Linked DNA regions of Homo sapiens. The protein of the gene in region 1 purifies or fractionates together with the protein of each later gene. This does not show direct contact. Each region holds a gene or a part of one and is shown on either strand. Other genes may lie near its edges.

The links.
Region 2: the proteins of KCNAB2 (region 1) and KCNA4 purify together in Homo sapiens (affinity purification with western blotting; 2 studies listed by BioGRID and IntAct, with this or other methods). This does not show direct contact.
Region 3: the proteins of KCNAB2 (region 1) and KCNA5 purify together in Homo sapiens (co-immunoprecipitation; 4 studies listed by BioGRID and IntAct, with this or other methods). This does not show direct contact.

Annotation. Positions count from the first base shown.
Region 1 is NC_000001.11:6,090,845-6,097,960, reverse strand, and holds part of KCNAB2 (voltage-gated potassium channel subunit beta-2), read right to left. Parts: intron 6,699-7,116; coding exon 6,654-6,698; coding exon of another isoform or gene 6,625-6,653; exon of another isoform or gene 3,581-6,624; intron 3,562-3,580; coding exon 3,476-3,561; intron 2,639-3,475; coding exon 2,518-2,638; intron 2,432-2,517; coding exon 2,337-2,431; intron 1,326-2,336; coding exon 1,205-1,325; intron 693-1,204; coding exon 604-692; coding exon of another isoform or gene 430-603; exon of another isoform or gene 406-429; intron 1-405.
Region 2 is NC_000011.10:30,009,212-30,014,128, forward strand, and holds the end of KCNA4 (potassium voltage-gated channel subfamily A member 4), read right to left. Parts: intron 4,250-4,917; 5' UTR 3,468-4,249; coding exon 1,506-3,467; 3' UTR 519-1,505; downstream 1-518. UniProt on the Homo sapiens protein: Voltage-gated potassium channel that mediates transmembrane potassium transport in excitable membranes. Forms tetrameric potassium-selective channels through which potassium ions pass in accordance with their electrochemical gradient.
Region 3 is NC_000012.12:5,039,874-5,046,892, reverse strand, and holds KCNA5 (potassium voltage-gated channel subfamily A member 5), read right to left. Parts: upstream 3,015-7,019; 5' UTR 2,746-3,014; coding exon 904-2,745; 3' UTR 105-903; downstream 1-104. UniProt on the Homo sapiens protein: Voltage-gated potassium channel that mediates transmembrane potassium transport in excitable membranes. Forms tetrameric potassium-selective channels through which potassium ions pass in accordance with their electrochemical gradient.

The DNA.
Region 1 (7,116 bases):
CGACTTTTGCTTCCCAAAGCCTCCCCGATGGAGCAGCCGGAGAGCAGCCTCCCTTTCCAGGCTGAGCTGCAGCTCGCCCTCCTCTGCCCACAATTTTGCCACGGCTCCCGTCTCACTCAGAAGTCCCTGGAGGTGTTTCGTGCCTCTCAGGATCTGCCCCTCTGCTCCAGGCCTTTTTGGGCCTTTGCATCAACTCTTCCTGCTGGTGGAAGGTTCTTCCCGCAGGCATTTGCGTGACTTACTCCGCATCTCTCAAGACTGCTCAAGCACCACCTTCTCAACAAGCCCACCTGACAGGCCCCCTTGAACCTGAGTCTGCAGCGCCACCGTCCCTGGCCCCAGCTCCCTCCCTTTATCTCTGGCTTCTCTCCTACAGCGCTCGTCCACCCTGACACACATTCTAACCTCCTTGTTTCGTGCAGTTAGTGTTCATGTCTGTTCCTGCTGGAAAGCAAGCTCTCCAGGAGCACAACTCTGATGGTTCACGGGCGCATCCTGAGTGCCTAGAACAGAGCCTGGCACGCAGGACGAGCCTGGGAGGATGCACTGGACGGGGCTCGGGCTGGGATGGGCCCTCTGCCCAGCAGGGCCTCTCACTCTTACCTGTATTGCCCCAATGTTCTCCATGAGCTGGTCCGCATTGGAGGCCCCCAGGAGCACGGAGCTGACTCCCTCATTCCTCAGGCACCAGGCTGTGGCGGCGAGACCCAAGGTGAGGGAGAAACACCCACCACAGGGGCCCCTGATGGGTCTGCCTTGCCTCTGACTGGGCCGAGAGACCCAGCATCTTGGTCTGGGGGTCTGAGGGGGTCTAGGAAGCCCTGCAGTGCTGGGCACGGGCTTTGTCTAAGAGGTGGCTGGAGGAGGCATGGGGGAGCCCGCTGCTCCCTGATGGAGAGGTGGCCCAAGTGCTTAGCGCTCCCCATCCTCTTCCCATGAAAGCGGGAGCCCCATTACCTATGGCTGGCAGATGGAGGGGGTGGCCCAGGTCCTCAGGGACTCCTGACATCCCCCTAGAGGCATGGGGTCCCAACCATGCCCCTTAGAGCCCGATTACCCGAGGCTGGCTGGGGGATGATGTCCAGGGATCCCTTCCCTCTCTCCCCGGAGACACTGGCCCCATGGCAACCCCACCCTGTTACCTACGGCCAGCTGGGGCAGGTTCTCCCCAGGGGCACTGGCCCCATGGCGACCCCACCGTTACCTATGGCCAGCTGGGGCAGGGTGCAGCCCAGGCGCTCGGCGATGGCCTGCAGCTCCTTCAGCTTGGCTTGCTGGCGCCGGCCCTCCTCACTGAGGATCTTGTCCTTCAGCCACTGGTAGCCCTGGTTGCGGGGGAGGGGAGCAGCACAGCTACAGATGAGAGCAGGTCACCTGGACCCCCACGTGCAGGGGGCCGATGGGCTCATTCCTTCTGGACCCTTCTCCCTCATAGGGGCTCTTCTCATCTTGAAGCCAGGGCAGTGCCCCTGCCCCAGGCCTCTCAAGTAGGGGAGAGTGGGCAGTGGGCCGGGCACGGGCTGGTGGATGAGCGGGGCCTGTCCAGGCTCTGAAGTGCAAAGACTGTGGTGCTGGCCCAACCCCAAGTCAGGACAAGGAGGCGAGGTGCTGGCCTTCCTTCTCTTAGGAAACTTGGCAGCCTGGGGTCTCGGCTGCCACCCGTGGCCCAGAAGAACCTCCTGGCCCTAGGGGAGTGCTCTCTCCCCTGGCCATCCCCCCCAGAGGATTGCAGGGCCTCCTGGAGGGGGGCCCTGACCTTGCCATGGGATGGGAGGAGTCGGGGGCCAGGCCACGTTGCCCTGGAACCCAGGGCTGTGGGCCCCAGTGCTGAGACTGCTGGCTGGGCAGACTTTCTTGGCCTGCTCCTTGTTCTCCAGATCCTGCAGTCTGGGGACCCTCCTGAGTCCCCACTCAGAGGTTGTGTGGTGGGGAGGGGCGCCTCTCCCAGGGTCACCTCCATGTGGCTTTGCAGCCCCCATCTCGGAGCCCAGGCCCAGGGGTCTCAGAGTTCTGAATGCTGGGCTGTGGTGGGGGGCAGAGGTGGGGGATGTGGTAGGGGGTAGAGATGGGGGGATGTGGTGGGGGCAGGGGGGGGGATGTGAAAGGGCCTCTCCACTTGGGCCTGTGCCACAGGCTGGGCAGCCCCTCTACACATGGGATCAGGCCAGGAGGGGCTCCATGTTCTCACGCCAAGGAGCCCGCCCCCAGCAGACCGAGGTGGGAACAGCTGCAGCTCCCGGAACCCCTGCCCAGCACCAAAGCAGTCGGCCCAAAGGTCCCACCCGTCCAAAATGCCTATCCCCTGCCCGTCCCTCCCCACCAGGCTGTTCCTTCACCTTCAAGGAGGCTCTTGAGTAGGGTGGGATGCCACTGTCGTACTTGCCAGAAACAATGCCACAGGCCAGAGGGGACCAGGTCATGGCGCCCACTCCTGAAGAGGAAAAGCAGGTGGAGTCAAGCCCTGGGCCCGAGAGCAGGGGTGGGGTGGGGCGGGGCGAGGGGCCCGAGGGTGCCCACCTATCTTGTGGAACAGCTCCGGCAGCTGCACCTCCACTTTCTCACGCTGGAACATGTGGTACTCAGCCTGCTCGCAGATGGGCGGGGTCAGGTTGAACTGCCGGGCCACGGAGTAGGCCTCCTGTGAAGGCAGAAAGGGACCCCGAGGGCCCTTGCCTGTGAGCAGGCGGGAGGCTGCCGGGGCAGCCATGGAGAGGGCACCAAGGTGTCCCCGGAGCAGGCTGGCCCAGCAGCTGCAGCCCGGGCTCCCCACTGCTCACACTCATAGCTTCCCTGGGAGCCAGGCAGGCCCTGGTGAGCTGGGAAAAGGAGGTGGGTGGTGGGACCCCCAGGCCGGAGGGTCCAGTTATGAGCAGCCCAGGCTCTGAACCACACAGCCTGGATGTTAATCTTGGCCCAAGCTGTGTGACCTTGGCATGTTACTGAACCTCTCTGTGCCACAGTGTCCACATCTGAAAAATGGGCTGCCTGCGGCACTCACCTGGTAAAGGCACCGGTGAGGATTGCATGTGAGAGGGTCCCTGTGGAACCCTTGACCCTAACAGCACCGGGCACGTCTCAGGAGCCCAGTGGAAACAGCTGACGGTGTTGTCACCCCAGAGTGCTTGCTGAGCTCCAGGGCATCTGCTAAGAGCTTCACACTGGCTCTCTCAGGGACTCCTTAGAATGGCCCCATGGGGGCTCACCTAGCAGATGTGTTCTACAGGTGGGGAAACAAGCTCAGAGACGTTAAGCCATTTGTCCAGGGCCACACAGCGCTGGGATCCATGCAGAATCCCCGTCTGCAAGGCCTACAGACATAACCACCACACTCCACCATCCTGTCCCTCCCTTAGCACCCAGGCATCGGTGCAGTTGGGACCAAAGGCACAGACCCCGCCAGAGCTTTGGGGTCTCCATACGCAGCCGGTGCCGGGAGTCTGTGCCTGGACACACACATGCTGCGCGGCCACCGTACCATGATCTCCATGGAGCTCCAGCGTGACGTGCCCCAGTACATGGCCATCCCCTGGTTGATGACGTGGGTCATGGCGCGGACGGTCTCTGTCGTGAGAGAAAGGGAAACCGCAGGTGGGGGGCAGCCAGGGCTCAGGGCCAGCCTCGGGACATTCTGCAAATACAGGCAGGACGCTGGGAGGAGGGACAGGGGCTGCGAAGATGTCTTGCAAGCAGTGTACTTCCTGGCTCTGAAGTTGGGTGTGGGAGGGGTTTTTTGGGATGAAAGAGAAAAGTGAACCACAATCCTAGAAGTTGGTCGTGAAAACAATTTCCCCGACTGGTTACAGGCCTATGGAAATGTTGAAAAATGGGTTATGGATGGACCGTGATGTTTCTATGGTAGATTAGAGGGGACAATCAAAGAATGTGGCTCTGGACTCTAGAACTGGAGGTTCTCTGGTCTGGGGAAGATTCGAGGGCCCCGATCACTCAGGAAGGACCAGGTGAATGCATGAACGTTACAGTCAGATTGGCGGCAGGAGGGACATGTGTTTTTGCGTTTCTGGTCTCCTACTTCGGGCTATTCCAAAGTCTAATTGGAACAGAGAGTGGGCTGGATAAGGAGATGTGGCAGGACCTGGGGCGCCATATGGTCCCGGAGAATAGGGCTTCGGGGCTGAGCTCATGTTTCCTGTCATGTCCAGGAGACTGAGAAGTGGGCGTGGAAAGCCTTGTAAGACCATGGCCCAGGTTCTCAAACCAGCCCAGCACCAGGCCAGAGTCCCAACCCGCCTGTCCCCTGGCAAGGGGTGGTCCCAGGGCCACAGGGGTCTGGGTGCTCCTCCTGTGAGGGGCCAGGGCCTGGAGTAGGACAGTTTTGAGGCTCCATGAGCCCTGGGAACAACCTGAATCGTGGACGGCGGAGACTCCTAAGGCCCTGAGGATGAAATCGCGGAGACTTCACGCTGGCCTTTTAAAGAAGAGAGGAGGGACCCTCGCCCCAGCGACACAGTGGATTCTTCCCAATATTCAAACATGGCTTTGAGACACAGCAATCTGCTGGTTATAGCTCCCTCTCAGCCTCATGGGGATATTGTGATTTTAAAAACAGAACTTGGCGTCGAAATTTCAAATTTCAGAAGCCTCTGAGCTTTGCAGGGCGAGGGACTATGGCGCTAGGCTTCTCACGGGTCGGATACAGTGCTTGCAAGTTCGACCGCCAAAGGCAGTGTGGGAGTGAGTGGGAGTGCAAGTGTTTCTAAAGACAGCAACAACGTTGACCCTGGAAAAGCCCTGGCTCTCCCTCAGTGCCTGCTTGTCCTTTGCCCATGCTGCGTGGAAGCTGAGGTCCTGAAAATGCTGGGAGTGGGGCTGATGGGAAGGAAGGAAGGATGGAAGATGCTGGGTTTGTTCTGCAGGCTCCCCCCTGGAATGGCAACGAGGCCACAAAGTGGCAGTGCTGGCTTCCCGTCCACTTCTGTTTTGGGGGTCGCTCCCTGAGTGCCCCTTTACTGAGGTCCACCCTGAGCAGAACCTGGGGCCTCCTAAAGGCTAGAGCTGAGGCCACTGGGGTTTCTGGAGTGGTGGTCTCGGCAGACTCACCCAGGACCCCTGGCAAACCACCCTTGGCTTCCACGCTTGCAGGCCCAGCCCTGCTCTCTGCTTACTTCCAAGGTCAGAGGTTGTAGCTCCTGGGAATCCTCTCTGTCCCCTCCTGGGGGTGGAGATCTGGGAGGGAGTCTGAACTCTCTGGGCCACCTCCCTGGGCCACCTGCTTTAACTGCCAACTCCGATAGACCCTCAGGAAGTGCCTGGTTGGGAAAGTTTGAGGAGAACCTAGAGGGTCCCAGGAGAATCTCTGACTACATCCTGCCCAGGTCCGGGCTCCTGGCCTGCCCGGCCTTGTGGTTTTTTAGAAACACTCTCGGGGCACCTGTGAGCATGCAGCATCAGTTCCCGATTCTTCTCAGCCAAGGCTTAGGTCCACATGCCAGACAGAGGGAAGCCAAGGCCCCCAAGGCCAGCCCCGTTCCCTCACTCTCCCTCCCCGGCAGCTGTCTCAGGTCTCCAAGGTCCCAGCCAGTGAAACCGCATGCTGCCCTGCGGCGCCCCTTCCATGCAGTGATGGAGAGACGGGGCTGACGGGGCAGGAGCCTCTGGCTGTCCTGAGGTGGGGAGTCCTAGGCAAAGGCCCCTGGGCTCCCTGGAGGATCTGGGCAGAAGCAGGCTGGACAGGGAGCCCACATGAGGGAGCACCCTGCACTTGTGCCCAAGTGTGATATCAGTGGCCCCAGACCCAGGGACAATTAGGGACAACTGTCCTTCACCTCAATATTTAATGGGGTTGAACGGAAGTAGGAAGACTGAATCCTTCTAGCTGCTGCCAAAACTCACAGCATCTCCTGCCGCATCACAAATAATACATGGGGGTTCAGGTGGCAGCACCAGTTGGCAGACAGGGGCCCAGGCCCAGGGAGATCGACACCTGCCCTTGGGGTGGGGTCCTGGGGCCGTTAGCTGTGGGGAGGGCAGAGAGACTGTGCGTGGCCAGAGGCCACCCCCTGGTTTCAGAAGGCTGCCGGCTCCTGTGGTTATTCTTTCAGGAGGAAAATGATTCCACGTTGATGGAGCGCTTTGGCAACCTGGTGAGAGGGGACACGCAGCCAGCATGCCGTCCGAGGAGCAGCGTGCTGTGGACGGGGCAGCGTGACAAGCCAGGTGATCTCTGCCTCCAGGAGAGACAGGAGCTTAGCAAACATAAACCATGGAGGAGCTAAGACTCGGTGGGGGGCCGCGTGTTTTGGGGTCCCTGATGGCTTTGCTCCTTGTGGAAACCTGGTCTTCCCCAACCCTTCCCATGGCACCATCCAGGGTCAAGGCTCCAGGTGGGGATCACAGCATCCTCAGATCAAGAGGACCCCCGGCCGCCGCGGAGCTCAGCAGTGCAAGCCCAGGGGTGGGGGCCATGCACGGGAGGAAGGAGGAACGAGGGGATGGGGGGCTGGGGGCGAGGGGCTCCAACACCACTTTGCTTTTCCTTCACTTGCAAGGTGTTCTCATAGGGTGCTCTTTCCCCTCTTTATGCATTTTATGGAGAAGTTTCTCATGGGGTAAAAGAATCATGTAAATAAAAATACTGTCTCATAAAATGCAGCTTGGACACAGAAGTCAATAGTCAGGCTGGGGGCACTGTGTACCTTCTATGATGAATGTCCTTGACTTGGAGGAACTAAATGGGTCCCCTGGTGATAGAAGAAAGATTTAAAGAGACCAGAGTTGATAGCTGGGAGCACTGAGAGGCGTGGCACGACGAAGGCACAGCGGGGAGGCACAAATCACCGTGCAGAACACGCGTTTAGTTAAAAAGGAAAAAAATATATCAACACACGCACGTGCGTGCTGTATATGAACAAATAAAAAACAATAACTGGAACACAATTTAACTTTCAAGTCCCTGCAGCAGCAAAGCACACATGGAAAGACGCCTGTAGCAGGAGGATGGGGGAGCGGAGGGGGCTGAGATCGCAGGAGTAGAAAGAATAAAAAACGCCAAAGTAACCAAAACCGATTTTCAAAGCGCTGAACGCTTCTTCTCCTCTATGTAGTAATTTATCCCCCAGAGCAAAAAAGTCCCCCCAAGCTTCCCAATGGATGGTGATT
Region 2 (4,917 bases), on another chromosome or scaffold:
TCAAGACAATCATTTTATAAAGAACAGAAGTTAAATAAACATTGTAGAATAAGGCCTCTTATGCATTCTGAGTTTTCTAACCTATACCTCATGATTTCATAGTGCAAGGCTGATCGCTAGTTGTTATCTCACATTCTAGAATGCTTTGTCATGACTTAAATGCAGTTATATGTGTCATAAATTCCTTTAATAAAGATAATAATGATGGTGATGTTGAAACCAAATGTTTGACACAATTCTTCCTTATGTCCATTTTAGCAAATATAATGTTAAAATCTGAGGTTAATCCCCAAATTCTGTTCTTATATAACTGCACAAAAAAATAAACTTAATAAATCTAGCGTTTATGTTTCACATTTAATAGAAAAATTTTAAGCCATAATCACTGTAGCTGCTTGGCATCTTCTTCAAGAATTCTTTCAGTGCATGCATTAACTTTGGTTAAATTATTCTGGAGTTAAAAGGCAGAAGAATATATAAAATAGTATGATTTCAGAAGCATCATTCTAACAGACCAATTTCAAAAGATTCAGTTGCTAAATTTTACTTCATAATTCCTTTGTCAATCAGTTATTTAGATTTTAAAAGAGGAGAGAATCCTGTGATGTTATCTGCATGATCATTAGTCTCACACAATGAAAAGAAAACAATAAAATAAGACTAAAGAAATCATTCTTCCAATGATTGTCATTGAACTGTTACATTAGTAAACATTCACAGTTTGAAGTCTCTCTCAATCTCCAGCATATAAAGTAGTGCAAAGAAAAAAAAATCCAGTCCTGTTACCTGCAAACAAAACTTATTACATATTCTCCAATTTCACTTATTCTATAATGTTAGACATTTGCTGTTAAGTCTTCCCAAAATTAATAACAAAATATAATCAATTTCTAAAGGCCCTTGCAGCCTTTTTAAAAGTTAATTTCCAGTTAAAAATAAATTTTAATTAAATCCAAGATAAAATTGTGACCTATAGTCTATTAAATAATTTACTTTCTTTTTTCTCTACACAGTATTTCTTACAATTTTTAAAAAACAACTACAGAATCCAAAGACATACGATATGCTGTTAAAGCACTGATAAATGACTGCTCAGATTCATTAGTTCTTACATAGTAAATACTTCAAAATGCCAACTTTTCCCTTCACTGCACAATTACTAACATTGACAATTTACTTCACACACACACACATATACACACACACGCACACACTCTCTCTCTCCATCTTTACTGTTAACATCTTTTCCAGTTAATGTGCAAAATTCTTGCATTCTAATAAAAATATAAAGATAGATTTGCTCCTATTCCTCCCTCTTCTCCAAGATGTATCATTTATTTGATATGTAATACAAGTTTAGTAACAATTATGCCATGTATAACCATTAAATAGTGTACTACTGTATGCATTGGATCATTTGCATATTTCATTTTCATAACTGCACTCTCTATGCATAAATATATTTGGAGATGCTGAGGGGGGAGCAGTGGCAGGTGGAAAAAGATTCACACATCAGTCTCCACAGCCTTTGCATTAGAACAGTTGTTTTTATCTGTCTCACTGTCATCCCCCTTTCCCTGACACTTCTCCTCCTTTGCACACAGAGATTCCTTAACTCCTTCTTCCATCTCTAGATACTCTGACTTGTCCCCCAGGGAAGAAGAAGTAGAGCTCCGAAATTTCTTGAGCAAATTAGAGGGGAGGTATGGACAACTGACTGCATTCTGCGTTAGCTGTGTCTGTTCCTCATTTTCAGTCTCTCTGTGGTAGAAATAGTTAAAGTTAGAGACAATCACTGGCACTGGCAAAGCAATGGTTAAGACACCCGCAATGGCACACAGGGACCCGACAATCTTGCCCCCTACAGTGATGGGCTTCATGTCCCCATAGCCCACAGTTGTCATGGTCACCACAGCCCACCAAAATGCATCTGGGATGCTTTGGAAATGGGTAGTAGGTTCATCCGCCTCTGCAAAATACACAGCACTAGAAAAGAGGATGACCCCAATGAAGAGGAAGAAGATCAGAAGGCCCAGTTCCCGCATGCTGGCTCTGAGGGTGTGGCCCAGGATCTGCAGGCCTTTGGAGTGCCTGGAGAGTTTGAAGATCCGGAATACTCGGACCAGACGAATGATTCTGAGGATGGCAAAGGACATGGCCTGCTGCTGCTGACCATTGCCACCCCCCTGTTGCTGGGCCAGGTCAGTGCCCAGTGTGATGAAGTAAGGCAAAATGGAGACAATGTCAATGATGTTCATGATGTTTTTGAAGAAGAGTGCTTGGCTGGGACAAGCAAAGCAGCGAACCACAAACTCAAAGGAAAACCATACAATACAGACTGTTTCCACGATGAAGAAGGGGTCATTGAATATTGTGTGCCCTGAGTTCTCCAGATGGGGTGCTGAAGTATCATTCAACAACCCACCATGCCCGCCAGCACTCAGTGCCATGACGAGATCCCTGTCGTCCCTAAACTCAGGCAAGGTTTCCAGGCAAAAGATGACAATGGAGATTAAGATGACCAGGACGGACACAATGGCTATGCCCCTTGCAGGACTGGAGCTCTCTGGATATTCAAAGAGGAGCCAAATCTGCTTTTTAAATTCATTCTCGGGGAGGGCCCTGTCTTCCTCTTCTCTCACAAAGCCCTCGTCCTCCCGAAACTTCAACAGGGCCTCCTCCCCCAACTGATAGAACTTCACCTCCTCAGTGAAGATATCAAAGGGGACATTGACTGGCCTCTTCAGGCGGCCTCCTGATTGATAATAATACAAGATGGCATCAAAGCTGGGGCGGTTCCTGTCAAAAAAATACTCATTGCGCAAAGGGTCAAAGTACTGAGTCCTCTTTTCAGGGTCTCCCAACAAAGTCTCTGGAAACTGGGCCAGAGTTTTCATTTGGGTCTCAAAGCGTAGGCCTGACACATTTATCACCACACGTTCACAACAGTCACTGTAGCGGACTGAACTGTAGCCGCCACCGCCCTCATCCTGAGGCAGCAGATCCGTGTAGGAACACTCATCACCATGGTCATCTTCACTATAGTAAAACCTTCCCTCCTCTTCCTCCTCTTCCTCCTCCTCCTCATCTTCCTCCTCCTCACTCAGCTCCCTCAGGATCTTCTCCTCAGAGCCACTGGGCATCAGGTCAGAGCAATGAGGGAAGCTGCTCTGCCGGTAGTGGGCTTTCTTCTTCTCAGACCGCTGTCGCCTCCTCCTCCGACTACCCCGGCTGCTCTGAGGGTCATGGGAGGTACAGGCCCCGCGTGACTGGTGGTGGTGGTGGGAGCCCCCACCAGAACCCCCGCTACCTTCGACAGCAGCTGTGGCCGCTGCAACAGCAGCTGCTGCAGCTGCCCTGGAGTGAGCAAGCCTCTCCCGCTCCCGGGCCCGGGCCTGGGCAGCATAACCATAAGGCATGTGACTGTTGCACCCTGAGCTCTCCGCACTCACCATTGCAACCTCCATGGTGGTGGTTTTCGGAAATGGCTGGTTCCAGTTGTAGAAGAAGAAGAAAGAAAAATAGGGCAGCTTCTTTTCTCACCAAATTAAGGTAAGTTTGGAACCCTTAAGCAGATTGCTTGGAAGACTAAGGATATTTTCAGTCCAACTTTGCATTTTCTGTTTTTAAATCAGCACGCCCCATGCTCTCTCTTCTCAGGGATTCAACATTGCTCTCCAGAGCTTGGCTGGTCGAGATAAATAGCCTGGCACTCTCAAGACTAAGAAGTCCGAAAATGCTGGAGTCTCTCAGACACCTATGTTTTGGGGGTAGATGTTGAAATTTGGAAATATGTCTGGGATGTGGTTAGTGATGTTGCTGCAAGATTCAAAGGCAGCAAGTGTCTGACAGCCAGAAGTTGTGCCTAGAAAATGAAATATATTTTTCTGCCATGGAAATTGGCCAATGCTCAGTCCATTAAATGTAAATAAAATGCAAATAAGCCTTTACTGTTAGCACTTGCCTTCTAGTGATGGCTCGAACCATGTTAAGATGTGGTTTGAAGTATGTCCAGCCATTTCTACTCAAAGTCTATCAGGATGATTCTCCAGGCTCTCCTTTTAAGTTCATCAAAGGCTTCCTGTACCCAGGTACAATGCCAAACCACAGATAGAGGCAAAGACCCTGGGAGGTAGAGAAGGTGCTAGATGAGGTGTCAGCAGAAGCAAAACCAGCTCTGAGGTCTCCATAGAAATCAAGGAAATGCAGAGCATTCTTCAGCCAAAATCATGCAGAAGAAGCACTTCACCTGAAAAAGGATTGGAAAGAAGCATAGGAGAAAAATAAAAAGGAAACAAATCATAAAGAGCAAACTGAGCATTTCTCTTCACATACACATCCTTCTCTTTTCTTCAAGAAAGTCATATAACACACCAAGCACCAATATTTTCAAGAGTATGGGGCAGGCTATTCTCACTCACTAAACATCATTCTTTCCTTCTTCAGTTATTATTTCAGCTCAGTTTATTTTTATGGTAACTCAATTATTTTTCCTCTCTCCACTCATGGCCCACATGGCTCTTGCTTCTATCTTCCCCTTCACCAATGCTAGGTCTTAATTCTCACTGTCACTCTCTTCATTCCACAAAAAATAATGCTGTGACTTTACAGCTGCTTCCATCATTCATCTATTTCAAGGCAATTTTTAAAATTTCCACTCATAAAGTGTTTCTGAATTAAGTGCCCTTCTACTCCTCTCTATCTTGACTCAGCACTGGGGAAGTCAGAAAAAAAAATAATAATATTCTTATTCTTTGTGCAGACAGCACCACTTGAATGCACTTCAGTCACCTCATCTATAAAGTACAAATAATAACACAACCTCCCCCATCCCATGTTTGTAAGGATTAAATGAGATAATGGATGTTGATAGAATATCTCAGTGCCTTTTACCTAATGAATGGCAATAAACACTGG
Region 3 (7,019 bases), on another chromosome or scaffold:
AACCCCAGTCAATGCGTTTGCTCTGATGTCAAAACCAGAAACAGCCAGTGACAGACTATTTTTAAAAATTTCAGAAAATGTATCAGCTGCAGAAAAACTAACACTTGCCTCAACAAGGTAACCTTTTATTTCCTGGGATAAAAATAAAGACAATAAATTATCAGAAGTATTCCTCCAATATCATTAAAATGCTTTTTGAAGAAAGTTACAAGAATTGTTTAAGGCGCACAGAAAAAGTCAGATTTGCCTTTCTTCAAGAACATACTCTGCCCTAGACACAAAGCACCAATACCACATCCCAGAAAAGACAGAGGCTTGGAGACACAGGAAACAGAACAGCCCATACCAAGATCTCTGACTCTAATATAAGTAACACAGAAAAACATCAGGACAACTCTTTCTTCCATAAATACAACATGTATCTTGAAAATATACCCAAAATATCTCTATCTGAACTACAGTACAAAAAGCCACTTACCAGGCATAAAAATAATATTTTCCCCTATACACAAATACAATCATATGTAAAGCAAATTTGGAACACATGGATGGAGGAGTTACATAATCTCTTGGGATCTGGGCTATTTAGAGTCATTTTTGTTTGGGTTATCCCTCTGCTGGGTATAGGAGACTGGCTACAAATACATCCATCTCACAGCGCTCACCATTTCCACAGCTCCTGCGTCATGGAATGTGGTACTTTTTAAAAATAGGCGACCCTTGGGTGTCATGGAAAGAATAGAGAAAATGGGGGGATCGAGGGAGGGAGGAAAGGAGTGAAAGGAGAGGGGTAGACTGAGGTTACAGTGTGACTTCAAATACTCTGCGGTATAATGTAGATATCCATGTTCAGCAAGCCTCCCATTCCCTACTCCACTGCCACCAGTCTGCCTGAATCTCCTTTCACAAATCTGTTTCCCGGCTGGTGTCCAGGCAGAGGGCATAAAGGGACCTCCGCAAGTCCACGTTGCTCTTGGCCTTGACGTTACACTTCTCTAGGGGGCAGCTGCCCCTTCGGGCACTGTCTGCATTCTCCAGGGTCCCCCCAGCCTTGCAGAAGGATCCCCTGCTCCCGCTGACCTTCCGCTGGACTCCTCTGTCCAGCCCCGGCCCCTGGCTCTGAGTGCCCTGCTCTTCCTTAAGGACTGCCGGCTCCTCGTGATCCGTTTCCCGGTGGTAGAAGTAGTTGAAGTTGGAGACGATGACGGGCACAGGCAGGGCAATGGTGAGGACCCCGGCGATGGCACACAGCGAGCCCACGATCTTGCCCCCAACAGTGATGGGCCTCATGTCCCCGTAGCCCACAGTGGTCATGGTGACCACTGCCCACCAGAAGGCGTCAGGGATGCTAGAGAAATGGGTTCCCTGGTTGTCAGCCTCTGCGAAGTAGACGGCACTGGAGAAGAGGATGACCCCGATGAAGAGGAAGAAGATGAGCAGCCCCAGCTCCCTCATGGAGGCCTGCAAGGTCTTGCCCAGGATCTGCAGCCCCTTGGAGTGGCGGGAGAGCTTGAAGATGCGGAACACCCGGACCAGGCGGATGACTCGGAGGATGGCCAGGGACATGGCCTGCTGCCCATTCTGGCCGCCTCCTCCACCCCCTGGCTGCTGCTCTGCCAGTTCGGTGCCCAGGGTGATGAAGTAGGGGAAGATGGCCACCACATCGATGATGTTCATGATGTTCCGGGAGAACCCTGCCTTGCTGGGGCAGGCGAAGAAGCGCACGAGCAGCTCGAAGGTGAACCAGATGACGCACGTGGTCTCCACGATGAAGAAGGGGTCGGCCAGGGTCCTGGGCAGGAGCGGTGCCACCGTAGGGCCAGAGGGCGGGGCCATGACCCCGCTGCCGTTGGCCCCAGGGGCGGGCGCGGGAGGCTGGTGGGGCGCCGGAGGGTGGCGGAGCAGCTCACGTTCATCCCTGAACTCAGGCAGGGTCTCCAAGCAGAAGGTGATGATGGAGATGAGGATAACCAAGACCGAGACGATGGCGATGGCCCGCGCGGACCCAGAGCTCTCCGGATACTCGAAGATAAGCCACACCTGGCGCTGGAACTCGTTGCGGGGCAGGGGCTTCTCCTCTTCTTTAATGAAGCCCTCATCCTCGCGGAAGCGCTCCATGGCCTCGTCCCCCAGCTGGTAGAAGCGTATCTCGTCCGCGAACACGTCCAGGGAGACGTTGACCGGCCTCCGCAGGCGGCCCCCGGACTGGTAGTAGTAGAGGATACCGTCGAAGCTGGGCCGGTTGCGGTCGAAGAAGTACTCGTTCCTCAGGGGGTCGAAGTAGCGCAGGCGCTTGGCGGGGTCCCCCAGGAGTGTGTTGGGGAACTGCGCCAGGGTGCCCAGCTGCGTCTCAAAGCGCAGCCCGGAGATGTTGATGTGGACGCGCTGGTGGTGCAGGGACGCCGTGCCCAGAGCCTGGTCCTCCACCGTGCCCAGGCCGGGATCGCCTTCTTCCTCCTCGTCCTCGGGAGGCGGCCGTCGAGGCCGTGGCAGCTCCTCTGGCAGCGGAGGCAAGGGCCGCACTCCCGGGTCCGGCAGCGGAGGCAAGGGCCGCACTCCCGAGTCCGCGTCTCTCTGCGCGCCGCGCCCCTTTGGCGCCGGCTCCTTGGGCCCATCGCTGAGCCCAGCCGTCGGGGGACACTGGAGCTCTCCCCCTGTGGCCTGGCCGCAGCCTGCCCGGGCCTCATCGCCTCCTCTGACGGTCATGGCACCGCCGTTCTCCAGGGGCACCAGGGCGATCTCCATGGCGCGGGAGCAGAGGGCATGCTGCGCCCCAGCTGACCGGCTCCCGCGCCCCCTACTCACGCTCCGCGGGCGCCTGGCGTCAGGCTCCGCTCCAGCGGTCGGCCGGCCCCTCTCTGGGGAGAGCTGGGGTTGCTGGCGCGATCCCCTCGCTTGGCCCTGACGTCAAGAAGCCGCTGCCCTGCTCTCTGCCTCTCTCTCTTCTGGCAGCCCGTTACCAAGCAGCCGAAAAGCCTCCTTCCAGCAGATGCAACCTTCAGCCGCCCCTCTCTGGCTGCGCCGCGCTTGGCCTCCACCCTCGGCGCCTCCCCCGCCTTCCCCTCCTCTCCCCCTCCTCCCGCTTCCCCTCCCGGGTCTCGTGGCAGCGGGTGTCTCCCCGGAGGGCGCAGCTGGGGCCCCTAGCAAGGGAAAGGAGGGGCTGAGAAGGGTGCAGCCCAGCGGAGGGAGGGAAGGAGTGGGGAGGATGGAGGAACAGGTTGTACCGACAGCGCTGAAATTCCCAGGGCAACCAGATGAGAATAGCTCTGGATTTCAGTTCACCTGGGAACCCGCTGGAAGCCGAGTGGACTCCAGGAGGAACGAAGTGCCTTGGGCTAAAGGGACGAGGCTTTGAGCTGAGTCGGAGTATGAGAGACAGAGACGGGAGACACCAGTCCTTTTTATTTTGGAGAAATAACGGTATTTCTTTGGGAAGGATTACAGAAGGGAGGGGGGCCACGTAGTTACGGACCTTGAAATACATGTATCAATGGAGAAGCATCTCTCTTCCCGTCTTCCTACAGATCCACAAAAATGTACAAGGGGGTTGGAACCCTGCAGGATTCCCATGCCCTAGCCTGTTTCCAGTACAGACCTGGTGGCAGCCCAGGCAAGCAGCCTAGTCAGGAGATGAGCTGTCTGGTCTCAACCCAGCAGAACCCCTCCACCCGCTCCAACGAATCCCATTTGCAAAAACCACAGCAGGGAAGGGGAGAAGCGATTTTTACAATCCTGGTGAGGGCTAATCCTGCCTGGTGAATCTTGGACCGAGCAACTGCATCTAGGTCCATGAAGGAGACTGAGGGTGGAGGTGGCTTATGAGAGGGAGCCAGGGAGGTTGTCCAATCTCCAAGGCTGGAGCATTCCCAAGAATGGAATAATAACAACCAATACTTACTTGGCTCTCATTATGCACCAGCCCACTCTCAGCACTTTACAAATATTGTCTCTGTGTATTCCTACAGCAACCTATTTTGTAAGTACTATTATCATCACCATTTTATAAATGAAGAAACTGAGGCACAGAGAGATTGACAGACTCACCCAGGCTTATGCAGGTGGAAACTGATGATGCTGGAACTCAAACTCAAACAATCAGAGTTTGGCCCTTGTCCCCTATATTTCACTCCTCTATAGAAATGCATAATCCCTTTTCCTGATACAAGCACTCCCTCACTCCAACATCTGGCCTGAGAACTTTAGTTCCCTGCTGCAGAAGGCAGGATGATGGCTGATATAACATATTAATCTTTCTAGGTTGGGACACTAGGAAATCTTCCCCTGCCCTGTCTCAACCCCTGCAGGGTTTTAGCAGGCATTGGTAACCAAGAGGAATCTGTTTCAAGGTGTGTGTCTGGAACTGCCAGACACAGTCTCCAGAAGTTTCTTGGTTTTAAATTATCATAAAGTGGCTGTGTTTTTGAATGTCTGTTTTCATTGTCTATTTTTGTTTCTGCATATTGCTTCAGATTTATATGCGTGAAGTTAGGACCTCTTGTCAATGAATGTCTCTATCCAAAGGGTGTGATTTGGAAACTTGGTCCTGGGTGCACAAGTGTGTGTTGCAATAGCAGCGCATAGACACACAAACTTGGGTCAAGGTTTGAGAAGTATGTGTGCATATGGCTTTTTAAGAGTTTATATGTGAAGGTGGATGTGAATTTGGTGTGCGTAAGTATTTTCATTCTGTGTGACTGTGCATATTGTTGGCTGTCTTTGCAGACGTGCATGAGTGAGGAAGGGTATGAACATGAAAATCAGTATGTGAAGGCATCACTGGTTAACCACAGGGCCTTGCATCCCCTTTCCCCATATCTGTGCCATCCCTGCTTCATCTCCAGTGGGCTTTCATTCTTCTCTGGCTCTGAGGTTGCCAGTCAGGATCAGGTATTTTTCCTGGGGAGCCTGGGACTTACTGAGCTTGCAGACAGTGAGGTCAGAGACCCATGACAGTCTTGTCTACTGATTCATGCATCTTGTAAATATAAGGATGCTACATTGGTTCACCTGGGTTCTCCTCGGGCTCCCCAGAGGAAAGAATTCTCTGGAGCTTGTCTTTCAGGGGCTTTCTGGGAGATTGTTCCCTGAAGAATAAGAGTACAACATAAACAGTCCAGGAAAAGCACAAAACCCAGGCCTCCTTTAATGTGGTATTTCCTTAAATCTGTTTCCCATGCATTTGCCAGTTCTTATAGGTTTCTGGCAAAATTACCTTCAGATGTCACATGTGGTAGCCATGGAGGTATACTGCTCAAATCTCCCTTAAAGAAAGAATTTGCTTTTCAACTGCCAGAGTGCAGTTAGCTGACAGGCTCCAGCTGTTGGCACTGCCTCAGCTTTAGTGCAGGGGCCACACTCCTTTGGGGTAGCCCTCTGAGCACAGCAGGGTTACAAAGACCTGGCCATTTCTACTCAGTGCAGATTTCCACTAATGGCAATCTTTGCTCTGCATTTCCCCAGCAGATTGGCCAAGACTTTGAAAGATCTACATTCCACTCTGAGACTCTGTCCAACCCCTCTTCCTCCCCTCCTTCCTTTCACAAGTGCCAGATCAGCATCATAATCTGAATGCTTTCCCTAATGAATTCTTCTTCCTATCACTTTTAACTTTCTTTATTATCTCCCAGTAAACCTCTTACACTCCTACCTCGATCTCTGTCTTCTTCCCAGAGCACACATTGTATAACTGAAAGCTGCCTTCTTTACTATCTAATCCTACGAGGTTAACTCTTTTATAGCAGTGCTTAATGTGCACCATTGCCTGAGGATCTTGTTAACATGCAGACTCTGAACCAGGGTAGGGCTTAGAGTGCATTTCACACAGCGCCCAGGTGATACTGATGCACCTGTCTAGAGATCACATTCCCATAAGAATAGATTTTTATCTCTGTGTATGTATGCATGTATGTATCTAGCTATCTAGCTATCGCATCTGCAAATGGTATCTACCACACTATATCTGTCTATCCATCAATCTATCTATCTATTTACCTACCTACCTTTCTAGCTAGCTACTCTCTAGTTACCTATTTATCTATTTATAAATGATAGGTAGGTAGATGAGAGAGAGGGAGAGAGCTAACAGAGAGAGAGAGATATTTTGAACTCAAGGAACATTTTTTATTGATCTTTGATTTTCTTCACAACACCAAACATGGTGCCACGTCCATATTATGCATTTCACTAAATATGTACTGAACGCAATTGAACTAGGGGAAGGAAATTCAGCTGTTGGAGCAGCGAGGGAGGGGAAACCTGGGAATAGGAACTGAAAGGTGGTTTCTGAGATTAGCTAAGTACGCAAAGTGGTTGTAGAGATGGGACCTAACCATCTGAAGACTTATAACCATTTGTTCGGGTTATATACCACTGCATTATCACAGACCACTTCAACTTTGTGGGCAAAAAGCAACAATTTCATATTTTGGACTGTATGGCTTAATTTCTTGTGTTTGAGACCTGAGGTGACTATAGCTCTGTTTATTATATGAGTAACACAAAACAAGGAGACCTGCTGGATTTTCAACTAGGTCAGGGAAAAACTTTCCCCATTGGACAGCATTTAAAGGGACAGAGGGAGGCAGAAAATATGCCACTAGTCTTTCTGTCAGACATTGATTTTACTCCTCTGTGGTGCAGGGAGTTCATAGATGCAGGAAGCCCAATGTGAGGACAGGATCCTAGCAGTGGCCTTGTCTGACACACCCTGCCAGCCAGGTAAAAATACTAGCCAGTCTGTCTGTCCAAGTCTCGGGGCTCAGGATCCCTCTGCTCCTTTCTTTCAAGAGGAAGAGAGGTTGCTGCTGAAAAGACCACATCTCTAAAGCATCCCTAGCCAGCTCTGGCAGGGCTCCACCAGGAAACCCAGGCATGGTCCAGAGAGCTTGAGTAAGAGAAGTGCGCTCGGAGCTGCTTTTCCAGCTTCTTTTTTATTCCTCTGGTAAACCAGTTATTCCAACTTACCCCCATTACACCTGTGCCTGACTTCCCCAAGTTTTCCCTCCATTAAAAAAGAAAAT